2 separate regions of the Homo sapiens genome follow, and region 2 is linked to region 1. Evidence: fine-mapped expression QTL. A gene starts in region 1. The other region holds a variant in brackets. All regions are shown on one strand. Distances are between the middles of the regions. Region 1 holds the start of CBLL1-AS1 (CBLL1 antisense RNA 1). Region 2 overlaps SLC26A4 (solute carrier family 26 member 4).

The links. PIP is the estimated chance that this variant, and not a neighbour inherited with it, causes the effect.
Region 2: its variant is the best candidate, but not a certain one, in a credible set for the expression of CBLL1-AS1 in tibial artery (GTEx, PIP 0.90).

The regions. Positions count from the first base shown.
Region 1 is chr7:107,742,872-107,745,790 of GRCh38, forward strand. CBLL1-AS1 (CBLL1 antisense RNA 1) reads right to left here and starts at 1,710. Exons shown (of 2, transcript NR_144537.1): 1 at 1,502-1,710; 2 at 1-532. It overlaps CBLL1 (Cbl proto-oncogene like 1), which reads left to right and starts at 1,271. Exons shown (of 6, transcript NM_024814.4): 1 at 1,271-1,305. The coding sequence starts at 1,293. RefSeq lists enhancers at 1-379, 380-898, 996-1,215, 1,566-1,745 and a silencer at 756-955.
Region 2 is chr7:107,682,695-107,685,613 of GRCh38, forward strand. SLC26A4 (solute carrier family 26 member 4) reads left to right here. Exons shown (of 21, transcript NM_000441.2): 7 at 508-660; 8 at 761-843. Among named protein-coding and RNA genes, the nearest start is that of SLC26A4-AS1, 22 kb to the left of the region's middle. The variant G/C (reference allele first, on the strand shown) is at 1,703.

The sequences.
Region 1 (2,919 bases):
CAAGGTAATGATGTCGTCACCAAGGGAGGACAAGAATAGAACCCAAATCCCTTGACTCCCAAGCTTGTGTTTTCCATTAATTGTGCTCCTTTCTATTCATCCAAGAGCATCAAGTGTAAAAGGCTGGAGAAAGGAGTGGACACAAATGAGCCAAGTCCGCAAGGTGGAGACTGCACTGAAGGTCCTAGGAATCGCCCCTTGGCACTTTCCTTTTGTGTTGGCTGAGGAAGATGAAAGCAGCAACAACCACAAACTCCTGGGACCAAGAACTGGAACTAGGTACTGCTTGTTGTGGTAACTCTCTTCCTCATTTTAGGCCTTTCCTTTTTAACCTCTCCTTCCGGCCAAGCCTTCGCGCTCTCTTCCCCTCCCTCGGTTTCTATCCGCTCCCGTTAGCTCCACTCCGCACATTCCTGCAAGGTGTCCCCGTTAAGAGGAGGCAGCTGCGCCGCACTGGCTCTCCACCCTCCATCCGGCCCTGGCGCCCAGTCGTCAGGTGTTCGAGAGGTTCGTAGCGTCACAAGCGCTCTCCCTAGAAAGTGAGTGGCAGTCAAGCATTATAAACGTGTTTCAACTGTAAAGAGACTTAAGAGATGGGAACCGGGGCATATACCAAGTTAGCTCTGCGTGGGTCTAGGTAGCTCGTCACGACAAAGCAAAATTTAGACAAGCGTTGAGACTTTCCTTCTAGCTCCGAGTTTCACAGCTCCGCCATCCCCTGAGCAACCTCCCACTGGAGGGCGCCTTCCGGAGCGCGCGTGTTTACACTTTTGCTACACCAGGCGGAGGAAACAAGCGCTCGCTGACCCCGGGGGATTCCAAACCGTTACTCCGCCCGCCGGGGTGGGGCCAGCGCAACGGCCGAGCCTGCGCAGCCAGCCGGCTCCGGGGGCCCCGCGCACTACAAGTCCCAGAAGGCAGCTCTCCGCGGGGCGGGCAGTCGCCTTATCTGCTTCTGGCTCATTTTTACCACTGCTCTCCCCTTCCCCGGTCCCCCTGGTGTCCTTTCCACAGTTAAAGGCTACTTTCTCTTGAAGCACATGAGGAGAAGCCTTAGCAACCTCAATACCGAAGTTCTTCGCGCGCTCGCTCTTTCTGCCTCCGCCCGAACTATGCCTGAGTCCCTCACAGGAGTTGGATAGTAGAGGCGAGAGAAGGAAGTCTTTGCAGGCCAAAATTGGGACAACCTGCTTGGACTTCCGCCTCCCGGCCTCCGGAAGGCAGTGCGCACGCGCTCGCTGCGACTCCGGCGCGGTTGACTTCCGCTCCCACTGTGCTCTGCGAGCCGAATCATGGATCACACTGGTAAGGAGGCGGAGGCAGTGGGGGTCCCGGTTCCAAGCCCCCTTGGCCGGCCTGGGGCTGGTCGCACAGCAGGCAAAAGGGATTATGCTCGCCCCACAACACTAGGGTGTGGCAGTGAGAAGAAATCTCACAGATGCCTTCCTGTGCCCGGCAGGGGCCTGCGGTTTCCTGGCCTACCGTCTGGTGTGGTACCTACCTCCTCCGTGCCGGCAACAACCGCTCCTACTCTGGTTCTGCTGAGCTCCGAGCCCGGACCAGTGGGCGATGTAGGCCTTCGGGAAGGGAGAGCCCCGGCTCTGTTTTATTTAGCCCAGCTGCTCTGGCCTACGTTATGGAGACTGGCGGGTAGATTGCGGTCTCCGAGTCGCGGAATCCTCTTTACGCTGGGAGTGGACGGGCGAGAATGGGTTGGAGACTTCCTGCTGTCTCAGTCAGCTTTGGGCGGGTGCTGCAGTGGTCACCCCCTGTCGTCTCTCCGATCCTTTATGGACTAGAGGGGTGAAAGAAGGGAGTCTGATAGAGTTTTTGGAATCAAACTCGGAGCAGTTTTTCTACCTAAACCAAAAGCATGCCCCGCGCTTCGGCTGAGGTCCTTACTCATCATTTGAGGGTATTTACAAAGAGGAGTTTAAAATCAAGGCATTCTCATACTTTTCTCCAAGTAAGAGTGGCTCCACCCTTTGTTATGTATTTTCTGGCTTTTGCTTCTTTGTGGTTCTTGGATATTGAATGAGTGCTCTTGGAGTTATGTGCCCCATACATTTATAGCGACCGTATCACAAATAGAGAAAAAAAGGCTTTTTCTTGAGTATTGAGTTGTCCTCACTCATCAGATATCTACTTGGTTATATAATTAGGTGTGTATGTTTATTTATGTAGGTGTGTATGTTTATTTATGCAAGATACATGCAGATATCTATAGGTCGGGAGATGGAAGATGGAATGGTAAACGAGACGGACCAGGTCCGTGATAGAACTTCTGTTTTATGGAGGAACACAGACAATACGTTCTTTTTTTTTAAATTTATTATTTTTTTAATGTTTGCGGATTATTTTGAAGAAAATAAACGAGTGCTGTGGAGAGATTCATAGGACGAAATTTCAGAGAGGGTTGTTAGGAATGGTCTTTGTGGAAGCTAAGATCTGATGGATGAGAAGAACCCAGCCCTGGGAAAAAAGCAAGAGGAAGAGCATTTCCAGCAAGTGCGAAGGCACTGAGGTAGGAAGATACAGTGAAGTCAGCTGCAGCCTCCTAATAGCCAGAGGGTAGGAGTCCTGAAGTGAGATTGGAAAGGAGGGCAGCAGGCACATCATTCAGGTCATTGAAAGCCGTGGTAAACGTTTGAATTTTAATTTAAGTGAATATGAAGCCATTGAACAGAAGTGGAGGAGGAACACAGTCTCTTAAAAAATACAATAGGCTGTTCTATGAAGAATGGTGTAAGAGAGGGAGGTAAGAATGATGGAAAATAGCTGATTGCAGTAGACGGGAAGGGAAGGTTGGTTTGGTGAAAATGAAGGAGAATGGGCAGCTTCAGTAAATACTCTGGTGGTGTTTGAAGGAATGTGAGAGAAAGGAGAAATGCCTAGGCTTTTGGTTTGAGCAACTAGGTA
Region 2 (2,919 bases), 60 kb before region 1:
CACAAAAAAAACAACCAACTGATCAACTGGGAGTTTCAGGTTTATCAGCCTTTAGTCTCAATGCTGTATCACTGTAGTAAAAATCAGGCTACTTGATAGCACCTAGAAACCCATTTTAAAATATAAACTTGTAAAGCATTTCTGTAAGTAAAAGTTAGTATGTTTATAATGACATTTTTTCTTTTAAGACATCTTTATTATTATCATAAAAAATACAGAGAAGCAAAAATAAGAATGTAGAAATCACCCAGTTTTTCCTTTCCAAGTAAACAATCATAAAAAACTTGGTGTATATATATATTGCAGCAATTGTATGTATGTAATGGTCTCTGTATCAACCAACACATTTTTATCATTTTACTGAAACTTTTGAGTGTTGTTTGATGCTGATATCATGGTTTTTCATGTGGGAAGATTCATATGAGAATTGATTGTGTGTGTGTGCGTGTGTGTGTGCTCGTGTGCGTGTAGCAGCAGGAAGTATATAAAATTATTTTCTTTTTATAGACGCTGGTTGAGATTTTTCAAAATATTGGTGATACCAATCTTGCTGATTTCACTGCTGGATTGCTCACCATTGTCGTCTGTATGGCAGTTAAGGAATTAAATGATCGGTTTAGACACAAAATCCCAGTCCCTATTCCTATAGAAGTAATTGTGGTAAGTAGAATATGTAGTTAGAAAGTTCAGCATTATTTGGTTGACAAACAAGGAATTATTAAAACCAATGGAGTTTTTAACATCTTTTGTTTTATTTCAGACGATAATTGCTACTGCCATTTCATATGGAGCCAACCTGGAAAAAAATTACAATGCTGGCATTGTTAAATCCATCCCAAGGGGGTGAGTGTGGTGTTCCTCTTAGTACTAATACATTAAGTCAGTAAGTCAGTCTTTTTTATTTAAATAAAACCTTTTATTACAAGCTTCATTTCACTGATACTCCTTCAATAGTCCTATTTGTGTGTGATCTGGAAGAAACAACCATAAGACAAACAGTATGTGTGTAGATAAACGTCAAGCCATTTGTTTAAAAGCAGCCCGTATATGCTCTTTTTTCTTCATTTTCTTAAAACATGGCAGAACATGTACGGTTAACACCAGAGTCCTGATTTAAACTTATACATAACATTATAATATAATATAAATAGAATCATTTCTCAGTAACATCTATTGCACTGTGAACAATCTGCTTAAGGAATCAGGGACGTCTGGCCTAAATTCTCTATCATTTAGTTTAATCAATTTTGGATAATAATTATATCCTCGTACCCATAAGTAAAATGCATTATCTTCAAGGGAAGTTTTAGAAACATTTGGTAGTTTGGTGAATTAGAAGAGTAAAAGATCAAGGTCCTTCATTCATCTCTGTCACCTTCCAGTTTTGTGACCTGAGGAGATTCTCCTATATAAGACAAGGATAATGAAAACAGCCGAAGCCTCAACTCAAGCTTATTATGAAACACCAGTGAGATCTCTCATGAAATGAAGAGTAGTCAAGACACCCTACACCATAATTTTCTCATATGGGGTTACAAAGGAGGCCTAGACGTTTATTATATTTGTAACATACACTCATAACATTTAAGACTAGACTTGCTGTTAATCAAGAAGTACTAGTTTTCCCTAAGACTGGAAGAGTTTGGTACCGGTGTTTCTACCAGGAAAGGGAGTGGAGGGGAGGGAAGGGCACGGAGCCACT[G/C]TTTGGTACCAGTGTTTGTTTTCCATGCTCTTAATAGAAACTTCCTCAGGCAAGCTTATTCCCAGAGCTTATTCTACAGGGAACTGCTGTATTCCCATTTGATGAATCTTATAATTTCCTCTAATATCTGTTCCAAACTATTTGAAAAAGCACAGCTGGCTACATGGGACTTAATTTGCATGCTATCCATTACAGTGTTTCTCAAACTTACCCTTTTGTAAGAATCACATGGGATCCTTTTTCACACAGATTCCTGGTTCCCACCCCAAACCTATTGAATCAGGCTTTCCAGAGGTGGGGCTCAGGAATTAATATTTTTCAAAAGTGCCTCAAGTGATTCTTGCCCTCAAGGAAACTGGAGAAACTCTTTAAGAGAGGATCAACAAATCTAATCTAACAACTAGATAATTTCATTAGTTAGAAACAATTACAGAAAAAGATACTTTACAGATCTCTTTTGTCAGGCTTCCTAGGATGTATCAAGTTATAGGTGGTCCACAGAGCAGGCCCTGTCCCATCCATCCGTGTTCCATTAGTTGGTTTAGGGAACTCATTTCTTCTGCCCTAAATTATCCCTCCAGGTCCTCTGCAGAGCTTTCCTGTGCTCTCCTCCTGAGAACAGATTTCTAGCCTCTCGCCCTTGAGTTTAATGAAGCTGAATCCTTTGACAGACCACCTGGTCAGCTTGGTCAGCTAATTTAACCTGCCTGGCCCCAGGGACTTTAAGCTACTCCATGAGGGCAGTGACCCCATTGGTGTTGTTCAGCTCTGTCCCAGAGCACAGAGCTCATCTCACAGTAAGCTCTCAGAAAACACTTGTTGAAGGAATAAAATACCCAAGCCTATGTCATTATAAACAAGCCACAACAAAGGCCTTGGTTATCTGATCTCACTTGGTAGCACAGAAGCAATTCTGATGATATTAACAAACCTGAAAAAGAAAGGGAGTGGAGAGATTGGAAAAAAGCAAGCAGAGTTTTAAAGTGGCCCTGAGGTGAGCACAGTGAAAGGAAGAGGGACAGAGAGATTGTGATATGCCCCCTTTTGATCTCCTCCCTGCTTCAATCCTCCATTAAGGCTGCTGCTCGTAGTTCCCTTTATCCTATTGAGGGTCCATAAGTTAGGATCACTCCTAACCTAGGACCATACGTTAGGACCATAAGTTAGTCCCCAATAACAATGCCCCATTGGACAGCCAAAAACAGTGGCTCCATGCC